5 separate regions of the Homo sapiens genome follow, and regions 2, 3, 4 and 5 are each linked to region 1. Evidence: fine-mapped expression QTL. A gene starts in region 1. Each other region holds a variant in brackets. All regions are shown on one strand. Distances are between the middles of the regions. Region 1 holds the start of NNT (nicotinamide nucleotide transhydrogenase). Region 2 overlaps TMEM267 (transmembrane protein 267). Region 3 has its middle 220 kb from the start of NNT-AS1. Region 4 overlaps NIM1K (NIM1 serine/threonine protein kinase). Region 5 overlaps NNT-AS1 (NNT antisense RNA 1).

Evidence for each region. PIP is the estimated chance that this variant, and not a neighbour inherited with it, causes the effect.
Region 2: its variant is the best candidate, but not a certain one, in a credible set for the expression of NNT in whole blood (TOPMed, PIP 0.85).
Region 3: its variant is the best candidate, but not a certain one, in a credible set for the expression of NNT in whole blood (TOPMed, PIP 0.61).
Region 4: its variant is the best candidate, but not a certain one, in a credible set for the expression of NNT in NK cells (Gilchrist 2021, PIP 0.84).
Region 5: its variant is the best candidate, but not a certain one, in a credible set for the expression of NNT in left ventricle (GTEx, PIP 0.61).

The regions. Positions count from the first base shown.
Region 1 is chr5:43,600,161-43,605,160 of GRCh38, forward strand. NNT (nicotinamide nucleotide transhydrogenase) reads left to right here and starts at 3,020. Exons shown (of 22, transcript NM_182977.3): 1 at 3,020-3,134. It overlaps NNT-AS1 (NNT antisense RNA 1), which reads right to left and starts at 3,070. Exons shown (of 3, transcript NR_073113.1): 1 at 2,618-3,070. RefSeq lists an enhancer at 1,044-1,213, a cis regulatory region at 1,129 and silencers at 2,368-2,587, 2,851-2,940, 3,061-3,280.
Region 2 is chr5:43,456,355-43,462,655 of GRCh38, forward strand. All of the region lies in intron 1 of TMEM267 (transmembrane protein 267), which reads right to left. Among named protein-coding and RNA genes, the nearest start is that of TMEM267, 24 kb to the right of the region's middle. The variant G/T (reference allele first, on the strand shown) is at 2,854.
Region 3 is chr5:43,820,689-43,826,989 of GRCh38, forward strand. No RefSeq gene overlaps it. Among named protein-coding and RNA genes, the nearest start is that of NNT-AS1, 220 kb to the left of the region's middle. The variant C/T (reference allele first, on the strand shown) is at 3,097.
Region 4 is chr5:43,194,196-43,200,478 of GRCh38, forward strand. All of the region lies in intron 1 of NIM1K (NIM1 serine/threonine protein kinase), which reads left to right. Among named protein-coding and RNA genes, the nearest start is that of NIM1K, 5.1 kb to the left of the region's middle. The variant C/CTT (reference allele first, on the strand shown) is at 2,747.
Region 5 is chr5:43,576,127-43,582,427 of GRCh38, forward strand. The region is part of intron 2 of NNT-AS1 (NNT antisense RNA 1); the gene reads right to left. Among named protein-coding and RNA genes, the nearest start is that of PAIP1, 22 kb to the left of the region's middle. RefSeq lists an enhancer at 4,366-5,112. The variant G/A (reference allele first, on the strand shown) is at 2,714.

The DNA.
Region 1 (5,000 bases):
GGTTTCAGGTTTCAGGCACCTGCCACCATGCCCAGCTAATTTTTGTATTTTTAGTAGAGATGGGGTTTCACCCTATTGGCCAGGCTGGTCTCGAACTCCTGACCTCAGGCAATCCGCCTGCCTTGGCCACAAAGTGCTGGGATTACAGGCATGAGCCACCGCGCCCGGCCAATTTTTTATATTGATTTAAAAACCCATAGGTTTTTGTAATTGGTACTTACATGAATATGCAAAGGACAATATTCACAGTAGTATGCCATGAGCTAGTTTTTTAAATGCTCACAGAAATTTCAAATGCAAACTGGTTTTACTTATGTAGCTTAAACAAATGCCAATTGTTGAACTTTGTGCTGGCTCTTTAATATCAGTTCTCTTTTTTCTTCCAGTTAATGTTGATTAGCATCAGCTCATTTAGTCAGTTAACATTTATTTCCTAAAATCAAACACTCTTGATTGGTCAGCCTGGGAGAAGAGGGCTAAGATTAAGGTTAGTGATGGTTCCCTTAAAACCTGTCGAGTGTCTGCATTGTTAGACACACTGAAATCTAAGAATCCCATCTCTCTGGGGCTGTTCACTTTACTAATAATTATTTATAAAAGGGAAGCTGAGACAATAAATTGCCAATAACCATGTAACATAATAACCACAATGAAAAGACATTAAAGCTACCTTTTCTGTAGCCTGATTTTACCTAGATGGTGGGTTTTGGTAACAAGCCATCACTAGAGGTCAGTTTTTGATTACATGTCTTCTCAGGTTCAGCCTATGTTTTGATTTTTGGCTACTGGGCACCTCTCTGGTTTTTAGGCTTTAAAGCAGATCCAAATGTTATATTATAGTCTTGTAAATGTTTCATCCTTTTTGCTTCTGATAGATTAGAACTCTAATTATTAAAAACTATTTTTAAGCATTTGTGACTACAAAAACTCCTAAACTTCAAATGGTTTAAATTTTGATGTTTATTTTAATTTTAAAATATTTTAAAAATTATTCAATAATAGAACAATCTGTAATGAAAACTTACACATATGTGAGAGGTACTATTTTAAGATGAGAGTTTGCAGGTCAAATTAGTCAGGGAGGAAAGAGTAGAAGTCAGAGTGGGAAAGGCCCTTAAAACTTAATAGGGAATATCAAATCTCTACAAAAATTTTATTCAAGACAGTGTCTAAGACTTAGAAGCAACTAACTTAAAAGCAAACTTTTGGAACTTAATCCTATTTTCATTGGGGACTCCGTTTATGAATAATATGCTGTAATTATACGTAGAAGCTTAAGGACTGAAACAGAGCATTCCAAATGACAAATGTTTTCTCCTGAAGAAATGGCACCCAAATTATGTTGTACAAGTAAGCGGAATAAAATAATCATATGCTTGTTATTAAAATTATCATATGCCTAACATTCATGATTTTCAAAAGTGAAAAACAGTATGTTATCTTTGAGTTTGTTTTCATGTGATATAAATTTATAAGCAAGTCAAAATTAAATAATGTACTGAGCATTAATTTAAGCCAGGATTTTTCAGCCTCAGCACTATTGACATTTGGGGCTGGATAATGCTTCGTCGTGAGGGGCTGTGTAGTGTGAGGTGTTCAGTAATATCCCTGGCCCCAACCCATTAGATAGGTCCCCTCTCCAATTGTGACAACCAAAATGTCTCTAGACATTGCCAAATATCCCTCGGAACTAAATTGTCCCCAGTTGGGAACCACGAATTATTAATCCCTAAAAGACAAAGCAGCAACTCCTGACCCCTACAAAAAGTTTTAAATCAATAACTTAGTTTAAAATCCTTACTAAGTGGGATCATTACTAATCTCACTTCATTGTACCTTCAGTATCTGGAAACCGTCCCTATGGTCACACTTACCACGGCTCATTATTATTTTAAAACATGGGGCTGTGTCATTTCCTGTCTGTGAGTTTGGACTGCAGTGGGAATCCATTAGTTGAATGACCTTCTGTGTAGGTTAATCACAAGACAAGTTCTCAAACTAAGGGTTTCCCTGCGGCTCATTTCTTTTTAAAGTTATGGAATACCTGTTCTGCTTATACCTTTTAGATTCATAATTATTTTTCTTGTATCAAAATTTCAATTAATAGAAATAAATGACGTTACTGACACTTCATGATGATTAAGTTTTGGGCAAGTGAACCATTTTACACTCTATTTTTTATTCCTCCCACTTTTAGTCAGAATACACCTGCAGAATAAGTAACAGAACTGTGTGAAAAGAACGACTAGGTCATTACGGTTAATAGTTTTAGAAAAACAGCCGAGGCCTGGTCTGGAAAGCTCACAACCTCCACCCAGATGCTTTCCAGCCTCGGGGATATTCGTACTAGCAGTGACACTAGCCAGCTTCCTCTAGGCTGGCTCTGATGTTGGAAGACAAGCACGCAGATGTGTGTTACTTTTCAAGCCTGGACATCGTTTCTGAGGAATTTAACTCCACCTCTCCTGCCAGAATGGAAAATCAACGCCCCCCATTCCCGCCCTTCACCAACCCCTCTCCGCCTGCCCCTTTCCCTTGGGTCCTCTCTGTTACAGAAGTTCTGATTTTTCCTAGCGAGCTGGAGGAAAGGCAGGTACCCGGAGTGGAGTTATATTACCTGTTTCTTTGTTCTGATGGGACCCCAGAGAGGACATCACGCTTTGTAACTGGTTCTTCAAGGGGAGAAGCAAATGTGTCCCTGAAAACTTCAGCTGCCGCGTTTGGCACCAGGTTTGATTGACAAGGACTGGCGGAGGGAAAGCGCGGAGGCTGGGCTGGGGGCCGCAGGCCGAGGCAGAGACAAAGAGGTTTCGCCTGTCCCCGAGAGTGGAAGGGCCCCTGGGGGTAACTAGCCTTTGAGCTCAAAGGGGCATTTCGTGAGGTCGCCTTTTGGTTCGGAGAGCGCGCGGCGATCGGGTGGAGGGGGCCTGGCGGGAAGAAAGCTGGGGCGGGGAAGGGGCGCGGGCCGAGGTGGGAGCGGAGCTGCAGTCACGTGGCCGCCCGCCGCCGCGGAGTTGGGGCTGTTCTTCCGGGTTGGAGGCGCAGCGCCGCGGGGCCCAAGCCCGGGTCTGCCAGCGCGACGTCCTCTCGCGGCCCTCAGGGCACAGCCCAAGGCTGTCAGCCTCCCGGCCCAGGTGAGCGCGACGGCACTGGCGGGTGCGGGCAGCCGGGGCGCGCGCCTAGGGCGCAGCTGGGAAAGGGGCTCGGGCCTTTCCTGAAGACCACGGCCCTCGCCGGGAGAGAGACCTGTCAAAGAGCAAAGCGGGGCGGGGTCGGCGGTGTCCCGGGCGCAGGGTGCATTGGGGTGTCCGCAGGCCGCAGGCTTAGGTGGGGAAGAAGCACCGTGCCTCTTGGTGTCCCTTTCTCGTCTCCTGCTGGGGCGATGTCGAAGGGAGTGGGCTGGTGGATTTGGGAACTGGGTCCCCGAAGAGGGCAGGGAATGAGGCGGCAGCTGTGCAGGTGCAGATATTTGCAGCTTTGGGGGACAGCGAGAGTCGTACGGGGTCATTTCGGCCCTCAAGATCGGGGGTGGTGGAGAGGGAGGTCATAGAGGACTTTCGATGGGCGGTTCATCCAGAGAGGTGGCAGCTGGATGCCCTTGAGGTATGCTTGACCCTTGAGGGAGTTCGGAGAGGGTGTCCGGCTGGGGACATAGGAGATTGCGAGCACAAATTGTGAGTGTGAGTTGGGGCGGTCTGGCGGTGGTGGGTACAAGTTTCTGGGGCCTAGGCTGGTGAGGAGGAAGAGACAGCGGAGAGGGCGACCTGGGCAGAGCTAGTTCAAACTCAACAGCCGGAATGACTATTTGCAGCCGTGGCCAATCGGCTTCCTAGGGAGGTTATAAATAGCGGTCTCGTGCAGATGCCAGCGGGTGGCAGTTAGTTGCCGAGCAAGGGACGGCACCGGTGGCAGTAGCCGTGACACCAGTGGCTTTGGGTGAGGTCACGGCGCCTGCCAGCCGAAGCTGGCTCAGTAGGGTATTGTGTCCTTGCTGGTATGTCTCGCTTTTAAAAGCGTGACTTGTTTATGGTTGCCGGTGTCCTTTATTCACCCTGTGGCGCCGGCCAGTCCTTAGGTGGTCTGTTTGTCAGGAGTCTTGTAGGACAGACTTATTCGGAGAAGCGCGTGGGGCTTAGGTGCCTACCTACTCTTCTTATTTAAAGTGTGCCCCTTTTCTTCATTGCACCCCTTTTATTTGTAAACCTTGACTTTTTATTAACAGACAGTTTAGGATTGCCTTCTTTCCAGCAGGTGCGCTTAGGCTGCTTACCTTGGTGATAGAATCAGTTTTCCACAAGGCTACACAAACATTTCCTTTTCAAAGGAAATTTTCCGAAAATCCTTGGAAAATGTGCTCAATAGGTACTTAGGCTTAAGGTCACCTAGCCCTATTCATTCAGTCAAAAATACTGACTTCCTCTGTGTTGTGCAAAGCACTGGGGGAGAGTAATACCAAAGTGAATATAACAGCTGATAAGGATATTCTCAGTCCTGGCAACAACCCTGAGAGGTAGGTGCTGTTATTTTATTTTTTCAAGTCTCGCTCTGTTGTCCAAGCTGGAGTACAGTGGCACAATCACGGCTTACTGCAGCCTGGAACTCCTGGGCTCAAGTGATTCTCCCACCTCAGACTCCCAAGTAGCTGGGACTTCAGGCTTGCACCACCATGCCCTGCTAATTAATTTTTTTTTTTTAGCAATGGGGGTCTCACTGTGTTGGCCAGGCTAGTCTTGAATTCTTGGCCTCAAGCAGTCCTCCCCACTAGCCTCCCAAAGAGATGGCATTATAGGCGTGAGCCACCACCCTGGGTGGGTGCTATTATTCCCCATTTTAAAGATGAGGAAATTAAGTACAGGGAAGTTAAGTGACTTCCCAAGGTCACACAGCCAATAAGTTGCAGAGTGGGGCTTCCAATCCGCAGATCCAGAGCTGACTCTCTTAAATATCTGTGGTATCCTCCCTCTTTAGGTTGGGTGCTTTCCCTCAAGGATTTTAATATC
Region 2 (6,301 bases), 140 kb before region 1:
TTTTGTGTCCTTGGGTCACGCAAAGAGTTATTAGATAAAATACCAAAAGCTTGATCCATTAAAAAATTGGTAAGTTGAACTTATCAAAATTAAAAGCTTCTGATCTTTGAAAGACAATGTTAAGAGAAAGAAAAAACAATTTTTAAATCTTATATCTGATAAAGGACTTACATCCAGAATATATAAAGAACTCTCAAAACAGAGTAATAGGAAAACAAACCAATACAAAAATGGACAAAAGATGTGAAAATGGGTACCTACCATTGATGATATTCAGATAGCCAATAAGTATAAGAAATATGTTCATCACCATTAATTATTAGGGAAATGCAAATTTTAAAAATTAGATATCACACACCTGTTAAATGGCTAAAATTAAAGACTGACAATCCCAGATGTTGACAAAGATGTGGAGCAACCAGAACTCATACGCTGCTGGTCGGAATAAAAAACAGTATGACTATTTTGGAAAAACAGTTTTCCAATTTCTCAGAAAGTTAAACGTACTCTTACCATATAACCCAGTCATTCCACTTCTAGGTATTTTCCCAAAAGCTTATGTGTACACAAAGGCTTACACATGAATGTTCATAGCAGCTTTATCTGAATTTGTTCCAAGTTGGAAACAACTCAAATGTCCACAAACATGTGAATAAACAAAAGGTGGAATAAAAAGGAACAAACATGTGATACACATAAAAACATGAATGAATCTTGAAATGATTATAGTAAGTGAAAGAAGTCAAACAAACAAAAATTACACAGTTAAAACCCATAGAACTGTGCGACATAAAGGATGAACCCTAATATAAAGTATGGACTTTAGTCAAAAATAACATATCAATATTGGTTCCCTACTTGTATCAAATATACCACACTATTGCAAATATTAATAATGGGGAAAATGTATGCAGGGCAAAGGGCATCTATAAGAATTCTCTATAATATTGGCTCAATTTTTCTGTAAACCTAAAACTACTATTTAGGTTTATGTATTAGTCTGTTATTGCATGGAACTACCTGAAACTGGGTAATTTACAATGAAAAGAAGCTTAATTGGCTTACAGTTCTGCAGGCTGTACAGGAAGCATGGCTGAGGAAACCTCAGGAAACTTACAATCATGGTGGAAGGTAAAGAGGAAGGAGTCACGTTTTACATGGCCAGAGTAGAAGACTAAAGTGGAAGGTGCTACACACTTTAAACAGCCAGATCTCGTGAGAACGAACTCACTATCATGAGAACACCTAGGGGGATATCTGCCCCCATGAACCAGTCACCTCCCACCAGGCTCCTCCTCCAACACTGGGGATTACAATTTGACATGAGATTTGGGTGAGGACACAAATCCAAACCATATCAGTTTATAAAGTCTATTAATTAGAAAAACTTACAAAAACTTAAAAATAAAGTCAATTTATTTTAAAAAATTAAATAAATGAACCGCCAACAAATATTATAAATTTAAGTAATAGATGTACTGTAGTTCATTATATTTTTCTCTATTTTTCTGTATGTTTGAAATTTTCATTTAGAAATGTTTTTATTAAATTTATTTATTTTGAGGACAGGGTCTCACTGTGTTGCCCACACTGGAGTGCAGTGGCTTGATCTTGGCTCACTGCAACCTTGACTTCCTAGTCTCAGGTGATCCTCCCACCTCACCTCCTGAGTAGCTGGGACTACAGGCATGAGCCATCATGCCTGGCTATATGTTTCCATTTCTATTTATTTAATTTAAAAAATTCTTTCTTTCCTTAATTTTTGAGACAGGGTCTTGCTCTGTTGTCCAGGCTGGAGTGCAGTGGTGTGAATATGGCTCACTGCAGCCTCTATGTCCTGGGCTCATGAGATCCCCCTGCCTCAGCCTCCTGAGTAGCTGGAATCACAGTCACAGGCCACCATGCCTGGCTAATTTTTAAATTTTTTTGTAGAGATGGAATTTCACCATGTTGCCCAGGCTGGTCTGCAGCTCCTGGCCTCAAGCAATCTTCCCACCTCAGCCTCCCAAAGTGCTGGGATTACAGGCGTGAGCCACTGAACCTGGCCTAGAAATATGTTTTTAAAAAGAGTGCATAGTATAATTCTACTTATTTAAAAGTCTACAAAATACAAACTAATTTATAGTGACAGAAAGCAGATCCATGGTTTCCTGAAGACAGTAGAGGCAGGAATGATTAAAAAGGAGAATAAAGAAACTTTGGTAAGGGACGCATATGTTCATTATCTTGACTGTGGTGATAGTTCCATGGTTCACAGTTTCATACATATGTCAAAACGTATCAAACTGTATATTTTAAACATATACAGTTAATTACATGTCAATTATACTCCAACAAAGATGTTAAAAAGTTAGGAAGGTACACTTCATTGATTATAAAACAGCAGGCTTTTGTAAAAAAGGAGAAATATGAAAACAAGAAACTATGGAAATGAAAAAGTTGATTACCCAAATAAAAACTCAATGCAAAGTCTACTATGCACTGAAGGAATGCACAGTGGCGTGAATCTTTCAAACATCAAAATTAGTAAATGAGAACATTTGCAAATAATTTTTCCAAAGCTTAAGGGGAAAATATAAGACAAAGAGTTGGGCATTGAAAAAAAATTTCCAAAAATAAAGAGAAAACCTTTAGAGTTTCTATGTCAAAAAAAAAAAATTATCTTCCAAAGAAAGAGAATGTGATTATCATCAACCCTAAATGTCAGAATACTGTGAGGTAACATTTACAGAACTCTGAGAGAAAAAGATCATAGACTGTAGCATTCTAAGCATAGTTAAATTATGGCACCTATGTGGCAACTGTGAATTTTAAAAGTTTTGCCTTAGAAATTATACACCCATGTATGATTTT[G/T]GGGGGTAGGGGAAACTGAGCAGTAGAACTTCTCAATCTCTAGCAGGAAGGGAGACAAATAAAGAAAATTTGATCAATACAGCAAGACAGAAAAGAAAAAAAAGAAAACCTTACTTCCCTCCAGCTCACCCCCACTCTGCAAAAAGCAATAGGGACCAAATAAAATACAAATACCACAACAAATGTGAATGTGTTAAATTTCTCTATAAAGAGACAAACATAATCAGATTGGGGCAAAAGAAAACATCACTAAATTATTGTTCAAAACAAAACACCTCAAACAAAAAGTCTTCACAATATAGAAAATAAAGAGATGAGAAAATATATGTCTAAGAAATACAAACAAAATTAAGTAGCAATGGTAATATTAACTGCAAACACAGAATTCAAGGTAAAAATGATTAATTAGAACTGAAAAGGATAAAATATTCACATCACAGTAAAGTTCTATGGGGTAAGAGGATGCTTACATGTCAAACAACAGCAGCAAAAAATTAAGTGGTCAATAAAAGGCATAATCTGAATAATATAATTTATAAATTTTATTTCATACTCAGGTATACAACTTCATATGCTATGAAGCAGTGGTCCCAGTCCTTTTTGGCACCAGGGACTGGTTTTGTGGAAGACAATTTTTCCATGGACTGTGGAGGGGGATGGTTTTGCGATGATTCAAGTGCATTACATTTATTGTGTACTTTATTTCTATTATTATTACATTGTAATATATAATTAAATAATTACACAACTCAACATAATGTAGAATCAGTGGGAGCCCTTAGCTTGTTTTCCTGCATCTAGAGAGTTCCATCTTAGGATGGTGGGAGACAGTGACAGATCATCAGGCATTAGATTCTCATAAGAAGCACGTGACCTAGAACTCGCATGTGCAGTTCACAATAGGTTCACTCTCCAATGAGAAGCTAACGCTGCCACTGATCTGAAAGGAGGTGGAGCTCAGGCAGTAATGTCAGTGATGGAGAGTGGCTGTAAACACAGATGAAGCTTCACTTGCTAGCCTGCCGTTCACCTCCTGCTTTGCGGCCTGGATCCTAATGGGCCATGAACCTGTACTGGTCCATGGCCTGGGGGTGGGGACTCCTGCTATAAACAGTACACATTCTTTTCAAATGTTCACGGAACCCCCATAAAAGTTAACCACATATTTGAATTAGGGAGGCAGAGCAAAATAGCAGAATAGAAGCCTCCACCAATCATCCCCAAACACAAGTTAACAACTATCTACACAGAAAAAAAATACCTTCATAAGAACCAAAAATCAGGTGAGACTCATAGTACCTGGTTTTAACTTCACACCACTGAAAGAGGCACAGAAGGGATTAAAAAAAAAACAAAACACAGAAAAGCAAAAAACAGTCCTGAATCACTAAGGCCACCCCTCCCCTACACCCCAGAAGTGGCAGAGTGGGGCAGAGAGCATCTCTGGGCACTGAGGGAGGGAGAACACAGCAGTTTTGAGGCACTGAACTCAGTGCTGTCCTGTTAGAGCAGAAAGGAAAACCAGACTAAACTCAGTTGATGTCCAGCCACGGAGGGAGCATTTAAATTAGCCCAAGCCAGAGGGGAAATGCCCATTCCATTGGTCCGAATTTGAGTTTCTGCAAACCTCGCCACTGAGGGCTACAGTGCCCTCTGTCTCCAGGTAAACTTGAAAGGCAGTGTAGGCCTTAAGGACTGCAACCCTTAGGTGAGTCCTAGAGCTGAACTAGGCCCAGAGACAGTGGACTGCGTGGGCACATGACATACTGAGACCAAAGTTGGGGCAGCCAAAGGTATGCTGGCATCACCCTCACCTAACCCCATGCTGCACATCTTGAGGCTCCAAAAGAGACCCCTTCTTTTTGCTTGAGGAGAATAACAGCTCAACCACAGCAAGACAGGACACTGGTCAGAGTCATGAGGGCCCCATTCCAGGCCCTAGTTCCCAGATGTCATTTCTAGACATACTCAGAGCCAGAAGGGAAACCCCTGCCTTGAAGGACAGGACTCAAAAACTGGCAGCATTCATCACCTGCTAACTGAAGAGCCCTTGGGACCTGAACAACCAGCAGTGATACACAGGTACTACATCAAGGGCCTTGCGTGAGCCTCTGAGACTTGCTGGCTTCAGGTGAGACTCAGCACATTATCAGCTGTGGTGGCTATGGGAAAAAACTCCCTCTGTTTGACAAAAGCAGAGAGAAAACTAAAGGGGACTTTGCCTTTCACCTTAGGTATCAGCACAGGCATAGGAGGATAGAGCACCAAGTGAGCTCTTGGGGTCCCTGATTCCAGGATATGACTCTTGGATGGCATTTCTGGACCTGCCCTGGGCCACAGAGGAGCCCACTGCCCTAAAGGGTGGGTCTCAGGCCAGGCAGCATCCACCACAAACTGACTTAAGAGACCTTGTGCCTTAAGGGGCATTAGCAGTGTTCTGGCAGTACTCTTTGTGACCTGGGGTGGTGGTGGCTATGGAGTCAGGCTCCTCTGTCTTTGAAAAGGGGAGGGAAAAGTGGGAAGGACTGCATCTTGTGGTTTGAGTGCCAGCTCAGCTGCAGTGCAATAGAACATCAGGTAGACGTCTAAGGTTTTTGACTCTAGTCCCTGACTCCCAGATGGTACCTCTAGACCCACCCAGGGCCTGGGGGACCTCACTGCCCTGAAAGGAAGGACATAGGCCTGGCTGGCTTTGCTACTGGCTGATTGTAGAGTCCCAGGGCCTACAGCAAACATAGGCAGTAGCCAGGAAGTGAATATAGCAGGCATTGTGTGAGACCAAGTGCCATGCTGGGTTCAGGTCTGACCCAGCACAGTCATGGTAGTTGTGGCCACAGGGGTGCTTGGGTTACTTCACCCTAGCTTTAGGTGGCTCAGAACACAGAAACAGACTGTTTGAGGGAAAGTAAAGGAAGAGAACAAGAGTCCTAGCCTGGTAATCCAGAGAATTCTCCCATATCTTGTCCATGACCATCAAGGCGGTACCTCTATGAGTCTGCAAGAACCACAGCATTACTGGGCTTGGAGTGCCCTCTAAAGCAGATATAGTTTAGATTATAACACCAAAGTCCTTTCAAATATCTGGAAAACCTTCCCAAGAAGGACGGGTACAAATAAGCCCCGACAATGAAGCCTACAATAAATACCTAAGTCATCAATGCCCAGACACTGAAGAACATCTACTAGCATCAACACCATCCAGGAAAACATGACCTCACCAAATGAACTAAATAAGGCACTAAAGACCAATCTTGGAAAAGAAGATATGTGACTTTTCAGACAGAGAATTTAAAATAGCTGTGTTGAGGAAATTCAAAGAAATTCAAGATAACACAGAAAAGGAATCCAGAAGTCTATCAGATAAATTTAACAAAAAGATTGAAATAATTAAACAGAATCAAGCTGAAATTCTGGAGCTGAAAAATGCAATTGGCATACTGAAGAATGC
Region 3 (6,301 bases), 220 kb after region 1:
GTATGAGCCAGCTCCAGAACATCTTTTGACTGTCATTCAAAATGACATCTGGCCATTTATTTATTTATCAGTTCAAGTTGCCATAAGATTGTTCTTCTAATCGTTGGCAAGTGAGGAGAAAGCTAATGATGAATCTATTTAGCCAGATTTCAAGAAGATGTGATAATGCTGGCACTGGCTATTGTTATAATTGTACATCTATGTTTAAAGCATCATCCAAGGAATTAAATGGATCTGGAGAAAAATACATCATTTTTTCTTTTTCTCCTTTTTAAAATCTTTTGTTAGATTTCTGGTTCCAAAATGGCAGTGTAGAAGCAAGCTGGCTTTACTCCTCCTTACGGAAAATCAGAAACAAACATAAAGCACTGAGATTATCACAAGCAATATCCCAGAACTCAAATATGAGGAGGAGACAGTTCCTGGGACCACAGACATGAAGATACTCTGAGAAGATGGTAAGAGAATCAGGCACCCCTTCTCACAATCTGCCTGTCATCAAGCATGCAGAAAATCCTTTCTGCTACTCACTGTTTCTATATTGGAAAAAGTGAGAACAAGGTGGATAACCAGTATCCCCACCACCGTGAGTTCCCTGGCAGGATATCTGTCCCTGCCTCAACTTATAGGAAGCATTCCGAGTACTTGAAGGGAGAAATATCCCTGAGGATAGCCAGAGGAAAAGGGGAAGGCAGAAATACCACCTCCAGCCCTGGAAATTCTGCTCTGTCAATCCACCAAAGGAGATTCCAAATCAGAGTGGCTGTTTAGCAGCACCACACAGTAGAAGGTTCATTTCACAGGGCCCCTAGGCACAAATCTTGAGCCACCCTTCCCCTTTGGAACCTCCCCCATTCAAGACAGGCACCACTCCTTTACCAGAGCCAAGGTCAGCCTGGGCTTTAGGCATCATTTACTGCTGAAAGGAGGTAACAACCTAGTGGGAAAAATAAAAGAAATAAAATCAATAGGTAAATTACAAAGAATCTCTAAGAAAACATATTCTATCATAACCAAAACAAGCCAGACATAGAAGACTGGAATAAACAACGAGTCCGTCGATGCAAGACAAAGATGTACATCTACAAGAAACAATAGCAAACAGGGACAACAACCTCCTCAAATGGACAAAGCAAGGGAACAGGGACTGACATTACTGAGATGGTGATATGTGAGTTCTCTGACCAGAAATTCAAAATAGCAGTTTAAAGGAAATTCAGGGATCTTCAAAATAACACAAAAAAGATATTCAAAATGTTTTGTTATTGTTGCTGGGGCTTATCATTTTTGTTACTGATACAAAATATTTTACATATTTATGGGGTATGTATGAGTATTTGCTACATGAATAGAATGTGTAATGATCAAGTCAGGATATTGGGGTATTCTACATGTTGGTGACATTTCAAGTTCTCTCTTCTAGCCACTTTGAAATATATAACACAATGTTGCTCACCATAGTCACCCTACTCTGCTATTGAATATTGGGACTTGCTTCTTCTATCTAACTGTACGTTTCTGCCCATTAATCAACCTCTCTTTATCTCTCTGACTCTCACCCACATACCTTTCTCAGCCTGTGGTATCTGTCATTCTATTCTCTATCACTATGAGATCAACTTTTTAAGCTCTCACATGTGAGTGAGAACTTGCAGTATCTGCCTTTCTGTGCCTGGGTTATCTTACTTAACATAATCACCTCCAGATCCATCCATATTGCTACAAAAGACATGATTTCATTCTTTTTATGGCTGAATAGTATTCCATTATGTATGTATACCACATTTTCTTTATCCATTAATTTTTTTTACAAATTATAAGGTATTATGTATCAATGATAATGAAAATTTATAAAATTTAAATAATACAAATAATCTTACTGAGAGAGAATATCATTAGCTACATTTTACCCGTATGAAAACTAATTAAGTAACTTACTTTAAAGTTGTATAGCTAGTTTTTGGCAGAAAAGACAAGAATTTTAGTTTCCTGAGTCCACATCTGATTTTCTTTCCATGGTACTAAATTGCCTATCTTGCAAAGTTAGGGGCATGTCCGCCTATGATTCCAAGCCCCTAAATAGTCCATTCATCTGTTGTTGGACACCTAGATTGATTCCACATCTTGGCTACTGTGAACAGTGCAGCAATAAACATGGGAATGCAGATGTCTCTTTGACGTAATAATTTCTTTTTCTTTGGATATATACCCAGTAGTGGGATGAATGAATCATATGGTAGTTTCATTTTTAGGTTTTTGAGGAACCTCCATACTGTTTTTCATTGTGGTTGTGCTAATTCACTTCCCCACAACAGTGTATAAGAGTTCCTTCTCCACAACCTCACCAGCATCTGTTATTTTTAGTATTTTTAATAGTGCTATTCTAACTGGGGTAGGATAATATCTCATTGTGGTTTCGATTTGCATTTCTCTGATGATTAGTGATGTGGAACATTTTTTTCATATACCTGTTGGCCATTTGTATGTATTATTTTGAGAAATGTCTATTCATATCATTAGCCCACTTTTTAATGGGATTTCTTTTTAAATGGAGGAGTTGTTTGAATTTCTTGTATATGCTGGATATTAATCCCTTTTCAGATGAATAGTTTGCAAATATTTTTCTCTCATTCTGTAAGTTGTATCTTCACTCTGTTGATAGTTTCTTTTGCTGTGCAGAAGCTTTTTAGTTTAATATAATCCTATTTGCCTATTTGTTGTGGTTGTCTGTGCTTTTGAGGTCTTAGCCATGAAATCTTTGCCTAGACTGATGTTTTGTTTTTTCTCTTTATTTTTTTTTCTAGCAGTTTTATTGTTTCAGGTCTTACATTTAAGTCTTTAATCCATCTTCAGATGATTTTTGTGTATGGGGAGACATAGGTGTTCAGTCTATTCTTATGCATATCGTGAATTTCAAATTTTCCCAAAACTATTTATTGAAGAATTTCCTTTCCCCAGTGTATGTTCTTGGCACCTTTATTGAAAATCAGTTGGCTATAAATAAGTGAATTTAATTCTGGTGTCATTATTCCGTTTCACTGGTCTATGTGTCTGTTTTTATATCCTTAACAATCCTGTTATTATAGCTTTCTAATA[C/T]ATTTTGAAGTGAGATAGATGATGCCTTCAGCTGTGGTCTTTTTGCTCAGAATGGTTTTGGCTATTCTGGCTCTTTTTCTTTCTTTCTTTCTTTTTTTTTTTTTTTTTTTTTTAGTATTTATTGATCGTTCTTGGGTGTTTCTCGGAGAGGGGGATTTGGCAGGGTCATAGGACAACAGTGGAGGGAAGCTCAGCAGATAAACATGTGAACAAAGGTCTCTGGTTTTCCTAGGCAGAGGGCCCTGCCGCCTTCCACAGTGTTTGTGTCCCTGGGTACTTGAGATTAGGGAGTGGTGATGACTCTTAACGAGTATGCTGCCTTCAAGCGTCTGTTTAACAAAGCACATCTTGCACTGCCCTTAATCCATTTAACCCTTAGTGGACACAGCACATGTTTCAGAGAGCATGGGGTTGGGGGTAAGGTTATAGATTAACAGCATCCCAAGGCAGAAGAATTTTTCTTAGTACAGAACAAAATGGAGTCTCCTATGTCTACTTCTTTCTACACAGACACAGTAACAATCTAATCTCTCTTTCTTTTCCCCACATTTCCCCCCTTTCTATTCGACAAAACCACCATTGTCATCATGTTCTCAATGAGCTATTGGGTACACCTCCCAGATGGGGTGGCGGCCGGGCAGAGGGGCTCCTCACTTCCCAGATGGGGCAGCCGGGCAGAGGCAACCCCTCACCTCCCAGAGGGGGTGGCTGGCTGGGCGGGGGCTGCCCCCCACTTCCCGGACAGGGCGGCTGGCCGGGCGGGGGCTGCCCCCCACCTCCCAGATGGGGCAGCTGCTGGGCAGAGATGCTCCTCATTTCCCAGATGGGGCGGCTGCTGGGCAGAGGGGCTCCTCACTTCCCAGATGGGGTGGCTGGTCAGAGACGCTCCTCACCTCCCAGACGGGGTGGTGGCAGGGCAGAGACACTCCTCAGTTCCCAGACAGGGTCACGGCCGGGCAGAGGCACTCTTCACATCTCAGATGGGGCGGCAGGCCAGAGGTGCTCCCCACATCCCAGACGATGGGCGGCCGGGCAGAGACGCTCCTCACTTCCTAGATGGGATGACGGCCGGGAAGAGGCACTCCTCACTTCCCAGACTGGGCAGCCGGGCGGAGGGGTTCCTCACATCCCAGACGATGAGCGGCCAGGCAGAGACGCTCCTCACTTCCTAGATGGGGTGGCGGCCGGGCAGAGGCTGCAATCTCGGCACTTTGGGAGGCCAAGGCAGGCGGCTGGGAGGTGGAGGTTGTAGCGAGCCGAGATCACACCACTGCACTCCAGCCTGGGCAACATTGAGCACTGAGTGAGCGAGACTCCGTCTGCAATCCCAGCACCTCGGGAGGCCAAGGCTGTCAGATCACTTGCAGTCAGGAGCTGGAGACCAGCCTGGCCAGCACAGCAAAACCCTGTCTCCACCAAAAAAAAGAAAACCAGTCAGGTGTGGCGGTGTGCCCCTGCAATCCCAGGCACTTGGCAGGCTGAGGCAAGAGAATCAGGCAGGGAGGTTGCAGTGAGTCGAGATGGCAGCAGTACAGTCCAGCCTCGGCTGGGCATCAGAGGGAGACCGTGCAAAGGGTAGGGGGAGGGGGAGGGGGAGGGAGAGGGAGAGGGAGAGGGAGAGGGACTATTCTGGCCCTTTTTTGGTTCCATATGAATGAATTTTTTTTTTCTGATTCTGTGAAAAATGACATTTATATTTTTGATAGAGGTGGCATTGAACATGTAGATTACTTTCAGCACTATGGTCATTTTAATGATATTCTTCTAATTCCTGAACATGGGATGTCTTCCAATTTGTTTGTATCTTCCTAAGTTTCTTTACTTAGTGTTTCATAGATTTCCTTGTAGAGATCTTTCATCTCCTTGGTTAAATTTATTCCTAAGTATTTTATTTTTTGTAGTTATTGTAAATAGGATTGCTTTCTTAGTTTCTTTCTCAATAAGTTCATTATTGGTGTATAGAAGCACTACTGATTATTCTTTATTGATTTTGTATCCTACAACTTTAATGAACTTATTTATCAAATCTAGCAGTTTTTTTGTTGGAGTCTTAAGATTTTTCTAGATAAGATCATATCGTCAGCAAAACAGGACAATTTGAATTCCTCTTTTCTAATTTAGATGCCCTTTATTTCTTTCTCTTGCCTGATTGCTCTGGCTAGAACTTGTAGTGATATGTTGAGTAGGAATGGTGAAAGCAGACATCCTTGTCTTGTTCCAGATCTCAGAGGAAAGCTTTCAGTTCTTCCCCATTCAATATGATGTTAGCTGTGGGTTTGCCATATATGACCTTTATCATTTTGGGTATGCTTTTTCTATTCCTAGTGTGTTGAGAATTTTTATTGTGATGGGATGTTGAATTTTATCAGAGGCCTTTTCTGTATATATCGAGGTGATCATACGGCTTTTGTCCTTTATTCTATTGATGAGATAAATTATGTTTATTGATTTGTATGTTGAACCATACTTGCATCCCTGCTGTAAATCCTACTTCGTAATAGTATACTATTTTGGTAATGTGCTGTTAGATTGGTTTGCTAGTATTTTCTTGAGGGTTTTTATGTGTATGTTCATCAGGGATATTGACCTATAGTTATATTTTTTGCTGTGTCCTTTTCTGGTTTTCATATTAGAGTAACACTATTCTTATACAGTAAGTTATGGAAAGTTCCCTCTTCTTCAATTTTTTGGAATAGTTTAATGAGGATTGGTATTAATTCTTCTTTATAAGTGTGGTAGAATTTAGCTGAGATTCCATCCAGTTCTGAGCTTTTCTTTCTTCCTTTCTTTACTTTTCTTTCTTTCTTTCTTTCTCTCTTTCTTTCTTTCTTTCTTTCTTTCTTTCTTTCTTTCTCTCTTTACTTTTCTTTCTTTTCTTTCTTTCTTTCTTTCTTTCTTTCTTTCTTTCTTTCTTTCTTTCTTTCTTTCTTTCTTTCTTTCTTTCTTTTTCTTTCTTTCTTTCTTTCCTTCTTTCTTTCTTTTCCCTTCCCTTCCCTTCCTTTCCTTCCTTTCTTTCTCTCTTTCTTTCTTGACAGAGTCTTGCTCTGTCACTAGGCTGGAATGCAGTGGTGTGATCTTGGCTCCCTGCAACCTCCACCTCTTGGGTTCAAGCAATTCTCCTGCCTCAGCCTCCCAAGTAGCTGGGACTACAGGCGAGCGCCACCACGCCCAGCTAATTTTGTATTTTTAGTAGAGATGGGGTTTC
Region 4 (6,283 bases), 410 kb before region 1:
TTTAGCATTTACATTTGGAAGCCTAATTAGCTTTCTAATTAGGAGATGGGAGAATGTAGGGGGGGATTCCTGCGAGAGGCTAGTGGGGAAAAAGCTGAATCCAACTCCCCATGGACTGGTGTTTGGTGTGCCATTGAATTTGCCTAGTAAACCCTCATGGGTTTATTTTTAGCTGGACCACTGTTAAATGGTAAGCCTGGAAAAACCTTCAGAGAAGCCTCCTTCTGTGTTAGGAAAAAATGTGGATTGGATATTTGGTTTGAGGTGTGTGCTTTTTTTCTAACTACATTTAAAATAAAGACAGGTTTATATGAAATCTGAATTCCCCAGTAATAACTACAGATAGGTTATAGAGCCCTTTATATTCTTGGTTTAACCCTAGGTTTTTAGTTGAAAAGGTTTAATTTGGGGCAAGCAGTGGTACCATTTCAAATACTTTTATCAGCAAATGTTGGTTTCTTTAAAGAACCGTAATTCATTACACATCCACGATTTCTGAGCTTCAAATTCTAACATTGATAGCATGTGATTAGACAGCTTGAAGCCCTCAGACTTACAGTTTTGTTTTATTTTCTTTTCGTTTTTAGAGACTGGGTCTCGCCATGTTGCCCAGGCATGTCTCAAACTCCTGGGCTCAAGGGATCTTCCTGCCTCAGCCTCCTGAGGAGCTGGGACTACAGGTGCATGACAGACTTATCATACATTTTTAAAAAAACAAAAGCAAAGATTTTTGTCTTAGTAGGTTAATGTTTTTGTCACATATATAGTTTCATTTTGAGAAACTTAAAAATTAAAATATAACATTAAATCCAACTTCATTCTTTGAATCTGATCACTGTATTTCTCTAGGGATTAAAGAGTTTTAATTCATTGGTTGATTTTCTTTCACTTGTTGAAAGGACAAACTGTTCATAAAATTTGTTTCATTTTGTATTTTGTCATTTCCTATTGTCATTCTAGAAAAAGGTCTCTAGAATTGAAGTTTTAATTTTCAGGAGAAGAAGAAAATATTCAAATTGCTTATGAAGATAATAGTCTACAACTTGAATTAACCACATCATAGTTCTTAAATTACTTTCTCTCAAGAACTTCAAGGTTAGCTTAGCCATTATTATACAGCATCCTGAGGAATATTAATCAGTTTTACAGATGGACAAGTTGTGTTCAAAAGCCAAGTGATAGGTCGGTGCCGTGGCTCAGGCCTGTAATCCCAATACTTTGGGAGGCTGAAGCAGAAGGACTGCTTGAGCCCAGGAGTTCGAGACCAGCCTGGGCAACATGGTGAGACCTTGTCTCTATAAAAATTTTTTAAAAATTAGCTGGGTGTGGTGGTGCATGCCTGTAGTCCCAGCTACTGGGGAGACTGAGGGAGGAGGATTGCTTGAGCCTGGGAGGTTCAAGGCTGCAGTGAGCTGTGATTATGCCACTGCATTCCATCCTGGGAGACACAGAAAGACTCTGAATCCAAAAAAAAAAAAAAAAAAAGTGATTTCAGCTAACCACTTGGAAAATCGAGACAAAAATCTAAATTGTCTGACATGAGCATTATGAATATGAGCATTAGCCAAGACTTAAGAGAAATTCAGGGCATGGATAGCGGGAAGAATTTAAGATTAGAGAGCAAAATAAAACTGTTAAGGGGAAAAAACTGTAAGGAGAAAGCAGATTAATAGAAAGAAAGTAAAAGCGAAAACATCAAGTGAAAAGAGGGTTGCACAGAAGGAAAACGAAGTTGCAGAATAGGAAACTAAGAAGAACTCCACTCTTCATCTTCCACAGAGAACACTGATGGTTTTCCAGAAAGCAGTCAGTACCCTATTTAGCAAAATCGTGTGACTTGGGAGGCCTTAGCGGCAGATCTTAGTTCATTCTGACTCCCTGCCACCCATCCAAGTGGTGTGGGCTGAGGCAGCTGTCTTTTCGGGTCTCCTGAACTAGCTGCTCATTAGATCTTTTCTCCCTAATCCTAAAGCCATCAAGAAGCTTTCTGTGTCTCTATTTGTTGGAATTATCTAGTTGGGATAATATATGGATACACTTGATTACATAATTGCACTGAAATTTTTCTTTTTACTTTAAAAAATTGTTCAAATTGTTATCATCACAATGCATTCACCTAATTTTATGAGAGTATATTAAAAGCTTATAACTGGCTGGGCGCGGTGGCTTACGCCTGTAATCCCAGCACTTTGGGAGGCCGAGGTGGGTGGATCATGAGGTCAGGAGATCGAGACCATCCTGGCTAACACAGTGAAACCCTGTCTCTACTAAATATACAAAAAAAAAAAAATTAGCCAGGTGTGGTGGTGGGCGCCTGTAGTCCCAGCTACTCGGGAGGCTGAGGCAGGAGAATGGCTTGAGCCTGAGAGATGGAGCTTGTAGTGAGCCGAGATCGCGCCACTGCACTCCAGCCTGGGCGACAGAGCGAGACTCTGTCTCAAAAATAAATAAATAAATAAATAAAAAATAAAAGCTTATAACTAAAACAACAGTCCCAGTCTCCAGAGGCAATCATTTTGAACTCTTGGCTGTTTGATCACTTACCTCCCTATGTCCAAATAATTAGCTTATGTTGCTGTTTTTTCTTTTTTTCTTGAGACAGGTTCTCACACTGTTGCCCAGGGTAGAGTACAGTGGTGTGATCATGGCTCACTGCAGCCTTAAATTCCTGAGTTCAAGCAATCCTTCCCCCTCAACCTCTTGAGTAGCTGGGGCTATAGGTGCACGCTACCATGCCCATGCCCAG[C/CTT]TTTTTTTTTTTTTTTTTTTTTTTGGTAAAGACAAGGTTTCACTATGTTGCCCAGCCTGGTCTCAAACTCCTGGGCTCAAGCAATCCTCTCACTTTGGCCTCCCAAAGTGCTGGGATTACAAGCATGAGCCACCATGCCTGGCCACTGGTTCTTGATTTATCAATTTTGGACAGAATCTATTGACTTATTTATTTTTATGTTTTATTTAGAGGCAGGATCTCACTCACCTAGACTACAGTGCAGTGGTACAATCATAGCTCACTGCAGCCTAGAACTTCTGGGCACAAGTGATCCTCTCATTTCAGACTCCAGAGTAGCTGGGACTACAGGCATGCACCATCATGTCCAGCTAAGTTTTTTATTTTTGTAGAGTTGTCGGTGGTAGGGGGGGCGGGCCTCTCTATGTTGCCCAGGCTGGTCTTGAACTCCTGGCCTCAAGCCATCCTTCTGCCTTGGCCTCCCAAAGTGCTGGGATTACAGGCGTGAGCCACCACGCCTGGCCAAATTAGTTCTATTCTTGGCTAATAAAATACACCTTAGTCATTTTTAATCATGAAGATTTTTAAAGAGCCTTTTAAACTTTTTGGAAATTTGAAATGTAGCCAAATACTCCCTCAGATGTAATCAACAGCGCCAGCCCTTGAGCTCCTACAGAACACAGAGGTACTGATTTTTCCACCCTTTATACTGCCTCAATTTCCATGATCCATACTCCATACCCCCTCTCCCATTTTACCATTTCCCTGACCTACATTTCTCTATCTTTCAGTACTTGCTGAATCACACCTGGAAATTCCTTCAGGCCTTATCTCCTTCCAGATGTTCTCTTTTGGGCCCCACCCTGTCTGTACCTATCTCTAGTTTAGCCTTTGGCCATTATATTTAGACGATCTGTTTATGCATCTACCTTGCCCCACTAGCTGTAGATTTAGTTATATCTACATTGTTCCTGGGGGTAACTTGTACACTTAAACATGGAGGACGGAGCTTAAAAATAATGTTTGTTGAACTGAACACGTCATCTTGATATTGAAGGAGTATTCCATAGTAGAGTAAGAGGGGTAGCAACCTCACATTGCTTAGAGTAGGGGTGAGGGCAAGGAAGTAGGGGGAAAACATAATCTATTTCTTTTCTTTTCTTTTTTCCGATGGAGGAGTCTTGCTCTGCACCCGCACCTGGCCAATATGATTTCTTTCTTTCTTTCTTTCTTTCTTTCTTTCTTTCTTTCTTTCTTTCTTTCTTTCTTTCTTTCTTTCTTTCTTTCTCTTTCTTTCTTTCTTTCTTTCTTTCTTTCTTTCTTTCTTTTCTTTCTTTCCTTTCTTTCTTTCTCTCTTTCTCTCCTTTCTTCCTTCCTTCCTTACTTCCTTCCTCCCTTCCTTCCTTTCTGTCTTTCTGTCTTTCTTTCTTTCTGTCTTGCTCTCTCTCTCTCCCCCTTCCTCCCTCCCTCCCTCTCGAGCTCGCTCTCTTTCTTTCTTTCCTACTTTCCTTCCTTCCTTCTTTCTTTCCTTCTTTCTATAGTGAAAACTGTCTTTATTTTTATTGCCTTTTATTTTCAACAATGATTACTTGAACTTAAAAAAAAAAGAGCGGACTTTATTAAGTAATGATTACTGAAAAGCCAAACCTTTCCAGCCCACTTCATATTGTCTTTTAACCATTTCAGAACACGATCTATTTCTTATCCTCCTACTTTCTAGCAGCATCTGTTTAGAGGGGATTGCCTGTGGCACACACAGCTCCTGCTCATGAGACAAGGTGAAGAAGCCTCATCTGTTTTGTGTGAAGCACAGACCCTGAGGTCAGACAGTCTTGGGCTTGAAATTAAACTTGGATGTTAATTGCCTGTATGGCTTTGGACAAGTTACCAAGTCCTTCTGAAGTTTAGTTTCTTCATCTGAAAAATGAGGATAATAGCAGGCACCTTTTAGGGCTGTTGTAAAGATTTTTAAAAATATGTATAAAGGGCCAAGCACGGTGGCTCACACCTGTAATCCCAGCACTTTAGGAGGCCAAGGTGGGTGGATCACCTGAGGTCAGGAGTTCGAGACCAGCCTGACCAATATGGAAAAACCCCATCTCTACTAAAAATACAAAATTAGCTGGGCATGGTGGCACGTGCCTGTAATTCCAGCTACTTGGGAAGCTAAGGCAGGAGAATAGCTTGAACCCGGGAGGCAGAGGTTGCAGTGAGCTGAGATTGTGCCATTGTACTCCAGCCTGGGCAACAAGAGTGAAGCTCTGTCTCCAAAAAAAAAAAAAAAATATATATATATATATATATATATATATATATATGAAAAATGTATATATCTATAAATGAAATGCCATCTCTACTAAAATATATATATATATGTATAAAGTAGTTGAAATGAAATAATGACTAGTCTTCTAAGTTAGGTACGCTTTGGCCTGCAGTTAACTAAAGAATCTTCCTGCTTAGCTAGAAGTTTATTTTTCTTGCAGAAGAAGAGGTCTAGATAAGCAATTAAGAGCTTTGTTTTAGCTGCCATCAGAGACCTAGTTTATTCCTATCTTTCTGTTCTGCTATCCATCCTTTTGCCCTCATATTTATCACTTCATGGTCTCTAGGTGGCTACTACTCCTCTGTAAGTTCCACAGGGGAAGGAAATGAAAGGAGCTGCTCCAGCTGCAACTATCCTCTTTCAACAGGAAAGCACTAATTATCAGAAACACCACACTAAGGTCTTACTGGCCAAAACTGTGTCTCAGAGCTATCCCTATCTTTGAGGGAGAAAGGGAAACTGGGATCGCCAGCTACTATAACAGAAGGCAAAGAAAGGAGAAGAGAGTTAGTAGTGACGTTGAGTGAGCCAGGCTGCAGTGATGTCTGCCACACTATCACTTATTGATAGGGTGGCCATATGTCCCAGTTCGTCAGTGCAACCCCGGTTTACACCTGTTGTCCTAGTGTGATTGTTATTATTATTTTTTGAGACAGAGTTTTGTTCTTGCCCAGGCTGGAGTGCAATGGTGTGATCTCGGCTCACTGCAACCTCTGCCTCCCGGGTTCAAGTGATTCTCCTGCTTCGGCCTCCTGAGTAGCTGGGATTACAGGCATGTGCCATCACGCATGCTCAGCTAATTTTGTATTCTTAGCAGAGACGGGGTTTCTTGGCCAGGCTGGTCTCGAACTCCTGACCTCAGGTAATCTGCCCACCTCGGCCTCCCAAAGTGCTGGGATTACAGGCCTGAGCCACTGCACCCGGCCGTCCTAGTGCAATTATTAATAGCACCCCATTCTCAGAGGTGTCTTGGTTTGAATGACAGATTCTATGTTCACCCTTCTTATTGAGCACTTGCTATTTATTGTAGGCTCTCATTAAGTAGTAGTTATTTTATTTTATTTTATTTTTTGAGATGGAGTCTCACTCTGCCTCCCAGGCTGGAGTGCAGTGACGCGATCTCGGCTCACTGCAAACTCCGCCTCCCAGGTTCACGCCATTCTCCTGCCTCAGCCTCCCGAGTAGCTAGGACTACAGGTGCCCGCCTCCATGCCCGGCTACTTTTTTGTATT
Region 5 (6,301 bases), 23 kb before region 1:
CCCGGGCAACATGGTATATAACTTTGTCTCTACAAAAGCAACAAAATTAGCCAGGCATGGTGGCGTGTGCCTGTAATAGCAGCTACTTGAGAGGCTGAGGTAGGAGGATGAGGACATTGCTTGAGCCCAGGAAGTTGAGGCTGCAGTGAGCTGTGATTGTGTGACTGCATTCCAGCCTGGACAACAGATTAAGACCCAGTCTGATATGGTTTGGATATTTGTCCCCACCCAAATCTCATGTTGAAATGTAATAACTGGTGGGAGGTATTTGGATCATGGGGGCAGGTCCCTCATGAATGGCTAGGGCTGTCCCCTTGGTGCCAAGTGAGTTTTTGCAAGATCTGGTCATTTTAAAGTATGTGGCACCTCCCCCCATACTCTCTTTCTCTTATTCCTGCTTTTGCTGTGAGATGTGCCTCCTCCCCCTTTTCCTTTCACCATGATTGTAAGCTTCCTAAGGACTCTCCAGAAGCAAATGCTGGCACTATGCCTCTTGTACAGCCTGCAGCACTGTGAACCAACTAAACCTCTTATAAATTACCCAGTCTCAGGAATTTCTTTATAGTAACTCAAGAATGGCCTAATACACTGTCTCAAAAAACAAAAACAAAAACAAAACGAAACAAAAAATACAGAAAACCCTACCAAAAACAAAAACAAACACCTAAATGTCAGAAAGTCATATTTTGGAGACCAATCTAGTCATATAGGTGGCTTCTAATTTAGTATCTGTTTTCTACTTAGACCACTGAGTTCTGGGCAGAGCCCATTAAGGAACAGGGCAAACAAAGCATTTGCAGTTTTTAGGGCCTAATATTTGTATATGTAAAAAGTAGGCACAGCTGGAAGACAGAGCATCTAGATTTTTAAAAATCAAGGATTCTACTTTTACACTGAACCCTGGGTCCCCCACAAAAGAGGGAAACACCAAAGGACTGGGCTGCACAGTGTTTCCAGAGTACACCTCACTACAAAGATGTCACCCTGAGGCTGGTGGGGGTGTGTGAGGCATTAGTGAGAGTGACAGATTGTGTGTCAGGTATTAGTGGGTGGGAGACCCATATCAATCAGCCCATTCTGTGATCAGCCCATCCACCATGGGATAGTTATTCCTTGGTGGTGAGTATTCCCACAGTCTCCATGTATTCAACTATGTCTTTTTTATAGAATAGAGCAAAGCAACAAGTAGCCTACATACAGTAATAACTATTAATTGCAACCACTGTCAGCTACCTCCAAAACTGCAGCCCTCACCAGTGACCCACCAGCCATTGCATACACAAGGTCAAATTCTCTAATAGGTCAAAGTAATTCCTTGAACCCCCAAAGCCAAAGAGACCAGGTAATGCAATGCAAAGGAGAGTGGAGCTTTAGACCTGATAAGAACTTGCCCATGACTCTTCAGACTCCACAGGAAGACAGAAGATCATTCCCATAAAGTGGGTGAGTGGTAGCTTTTCTATGTTTCTTTTTATTTATTTATTATTTTATTTATTTATTTATTTATTTATTTTTATTGATTATTCTTGGGTGTTTCTCGCAGAGGGGGATTTGGCAGGGTCATAGGACAATAGTGGAGGGAAGGTCAGCAGATAAACAAGTGAACAAAGGTCTCTGGTTTTCCTAGGCAGAGGACCCTGCGGCCTTCCGCAGTGTTTGTGTCCCTGGGTACTTGAGATTAGGGAGTGGTGATGACTCTTAACGAGCATGCTGCCTTCAAGCATCTGTTTAACAAAGCACATCTTGCACCGCCCTTAATCCATTTAACCCTGAGTGGACACAGCACATGATTCAGAGAGCACAGGGTTGGGGGTAAGGTCACAGATCAACAGGATAAGAATTTTTCTTAGTACAGAACAAAATGAAAAGTCTCCCATGTCTACCTCTTTCTACGCAGACACAGCAACCATCCGATTTCTCAATCTTTTCCTCACCTTTCCCCCCTTTCTATTCCACAAAACCGCCATTGTCATCATGGCCCGTTCTCAATGAGCTGTTGGGTACACCTCCCAGACGGGGTGGTGGCCGGGCAGAGGGGCTCCTCACTTCCCAGTAGGGGCGGCTGGGCAGAGGCGCCCCTCACCTCCCGGACGGGGCGGCTGGCCGGGCGGGGGGCTGACCCCCCCACCTCCCTCCCGGACGGGGCAGCTGGCCTGGCGGGGGCTGACCCCCACCTCCCTCCCGGACGGGGTGGCTGCTGGGCGGAGACGCTCCTCACTTCCCAGACGGGGTGACTGCCGGGCGGAGGGGCTCCTCACTTCTCAGACGGGCGGTTGCCAGGCGGAGGGTCTCCTCACTTCTCAGACGGGGCGGCCGGGCAGAGACGCTCCTCACCTCCCAGACAGGGTCGCGGCCGGGTAGAGGCGCTCCTCACATCCCAGGCGGGGCGGCGGGGCAGAGGCTCTCCCCACATCTCAGACAATGGGCGGCCGGGCAGAGACGCTCCTCACTTCCTAGATGGGATGGCGACCGGGAAGAGGCGCTCGTCACTTCCTAGATGGGATGGCGGCCGGGCAGAGATGCTCCTCACTTTCCAGACTGGGCAGCCAGGCAGAGGGGCTCCTCACGTCCCAGGCGATGGGCGGCCAGGCAGAGACGCTCCTCACTTCCCAGACGGGGTGGCGGCCGGGCAGAGGCTGCAATCTCGGCACTTTGGGAGGCCAAGGCAGGCGGCTGGGAGGTGGAGGTTGTAGCGAGCCGAGATCACGCCACT[G/A]CACTCCAGCCTGGGCACCATTGAGCACTGAGTGAACCAGACTCCGTCTGCAATCCCGGCACCCCGGGAGGCCGAGGCTGGCGGATCACTCGTGGCTAGGAGCTGGAGACCAGCCCGGCCAACACAGCGAAACCCCGTCTCCACCAAAAAAATACGAAAACCAGTGAGGCGTGGCGTCGCGCGCCTGCAATTGCAGGCACTGGGCAGGCTGAGGCAGGAGAATCAGGCAGGGAGGTTGCAGTGAGCCGAGATGGCAGCAGTACAGTCCAGCTTCGGCTCGGGAGAGGGGGAGGGGGAGGGGGAGGGGGAGGGAGAGGGTTTTCTATGTTTCTTACAGGGTCTTTAGATGTTCCCACAGATCCTTTTATGTGATATTCAAGACAGCAAAGAGAAAGGAGGAACAAAAAGCCAATGAAGTTTTACGCTTTTCTTAACAAAAATCATACCACAAGAAATGAAGCATACAAAAAGACCAAATATACAATTAAAAGAAGTTTCAGTAAACTAGAAAAATCCTCAGAAATAGGATCCCAAAGAAAAAAGGCAGAAAGGCCTTTAAATATATATATTTATATAAATATATTTTTGCATATTTATATACATATATTTATATAAATATATTTTTGCATATTTATATACACATATATTTATATATTGTAATAATACATTTATATATTATAATATATAATATAAAAATATTTTATCTATTATATATTTTATAATATTTATATATTATATGTTATATATAATATATAACATAATATTATACATTTATATAATATATAAATAAAATATAATATATAAATATATAACAATATATTTATAATATAATATAATATAAATTAAATATAAATTAAATATATTTCTATAAATATATAGGTATATATTTATATAAATATATAACTATATTAAATATATACCTATATATTTAATATAGTTATAATATAATATAATATAAATATATGTATATTATATATTTATGTATATAACGATATATTCAACATATATGTTGAATATTAGCTTCTAATTAAGCTGACTTCTGATCATAGAGCTTTTTAAAAATATATTTTCAGATCTTTTATTATTGGATTTTGGCTAGGACAAATAGCTAATATTCCTGACTTTTAAACTTTTTTATGAAAGGTAACTTTGCAAGTGACTCAACAATTTAACTAAGGACACATGAGGTGTCTCCAAAGAGGTAAAAAGCAGTCCTCACAAGATGCAGATGCACTGAAAGACAGTTCAAAGAAAATAAAGTTTCAGTAGCCGCAAACGGGATTCAACCCACATCTGTCCAGCCATATTCTCTAGTGTCTCAACTTCTCAGCTGACTGTCTACACACAAAGGCCCAAAAGCCTCATACGCCCCCACAGATGGAAGGAGGCAGAAAATCAAAAGCTGTCCATGAAACAGAAAATGATCAACAACAAATGGGTACCCCAAAAAGCCAAAAGTCACACAAATATCAGACCAAAAGGTACTGGTTCCCTGACTGGTAATCAAACCCAGACCACAGTAGTGAAAGCACAGAATTTTAATTACTGGACTGAAAGGTGGAGCAGCTTTATTGTGAATCCTACAGACAGTTTGAGCACATATGTTATTGTGGGGAAAAGAAAGAGAGATCAGATTGTTACTGTGTCTGTGTAGAAAGAAGTAGACATAGGAGACTCCATTTTGTTCTGTACTAAGACAAATTCTTTTGCCTTGAGATGCTGTTAATCTATAACCTTACCCCCAACCCCGTGCTCTCTGAAACATGTGATGTGTCAACTTACGGTTAAATGGATTAAGGGCGGTGCAAGATGTGCTTTGTTAAACAGATGCTTGAAGGCAGCATGCTCATTAAGAGTCTTCACCACTCCCTAATCTCAAGTACCCAGGGACCTCTGCCTAGGAAAGCCAGGTATTGTCCAAGGTTTCTCCCCATGTGATAGTCTGAAATATGGCCTCCTGGGAAGGGAAAGACCTGACCATCCCCCAGCCCAACACCCGTAAAGGGTCTGTGCTGAGGAGGATTAGTATAAGAGGAAGGCATGCCTCTTTGCAGTTGAGACAAGAGGAAGCCATCTGTCTCCTGCCCGTCCCTGGGCAATGGAATGTCTCGGTATAAAACCCGATTGTATGTTCCATCTACTGAGATGGGGGAAAACTGCCTTAGGGCTGGAGGTGGGACATGCGGGCAACAATACTGCTTTGTAAGGCATTGAGATGTTTATGTGTATGCATATCTAAAGCACAGCACTTAATTCGTTACCTTGTCTATGATGCAGAGACCTTTGTTCACGTGTTTATCTGCTGACCTTCTCTCCACTATTATCCTATGACCCTGCCACATCCCCCTCTCTGAGAAACACCCAAAAATGATGAATAAATACTAAGAGAACTCAGAGGCTGGCGGGATCCTCCATATGCTGAACGCTGGTTTCCTGGGTCCCCTTATTTTCTTTCTCTATACTTCGTCTCTGTGTCTTTTTCTTTTCCAAGTCTCTCGTTCCACCTAACGAGAAACACCCACAGGTGTGGAGGGGCAACCCACCCCTTCAGTTATGATTTTCACTTTGTGTTAGGTCAGATTTTTGCTGTTTAATTTTGTCAAGAGAATTTCTAAGGTTAGCCATGATACTATTATATGTCTTTATTTTAATTTGGTCTGTCTATAAACACAAAGAAGGCAATTGTTTAGAACCAAGCAACAAGAGTTGAGATGACAAAAGCCCACAGTGATGGGACTTTTAAGACAAACTCCCCTGAGAGCTTGACACATTCATAACAAAAAGTGTGCTGCTTAAAATCTTACATGTCTCACGTCCCAGCCATTTTCAGACTGGTCACCTTATATGACCTGAAAATCATGCCTCATAGATAGTGGAGACCAAGAGAGAGTGCTCCCACTTTGTCACCAGCCACACTTTCAAGGATATAAAACAAGATGAAAGGGGAATCTCATATGGTTTTTATTTTGGGGGCCCACAACAAAGTTTATATGCTGTTCTGGTCAGAACTACAATTCTGACAAGTCCGCAAGGCTGGCTGGAAAAATGGGCTTATAAAGGCTTTAGGCCTATGTTCTACCTCATGCTTGGTACCCTTCTTTATGACATAACAACACGGAAAGACAAAGAAAGAAAAAGTTGATTTCTGGGACAAAAAGGATCAAATAATATGAATACTTAAACCAAAAATTACACCAGAGTCACAACACCCAAGACTACTCACACAAATCCTTGTCTCCCATTAATCAAGATTTTGCAGAGAAAAGAGACAAACAGGGATTTTAACTGTCAACTTGATCAGATTCCACAGAAAGAGAGGCCAGAAGCTTGGCCGGTAAGAAATTCTTGTTCTTCTGGCAGCTAGTCAGGTCCTGGGTTCCCTTCACTCTGGCTTAAGAGCAGAATAGTTTTGGTATACTGCTCACAGCACCAAAACTATAGGAGCCAAGCAAAAACTTCCCCTTTGCCCTCTGAAGGTCCACTGAAAAATCAACTGATAAAAGGCAGCTTAATAGGAGAAATGGCACAGAAATTTATTAACATACCCACAAAGGAGAACCACAGAGTAATTATTCCTCATGTCATTTC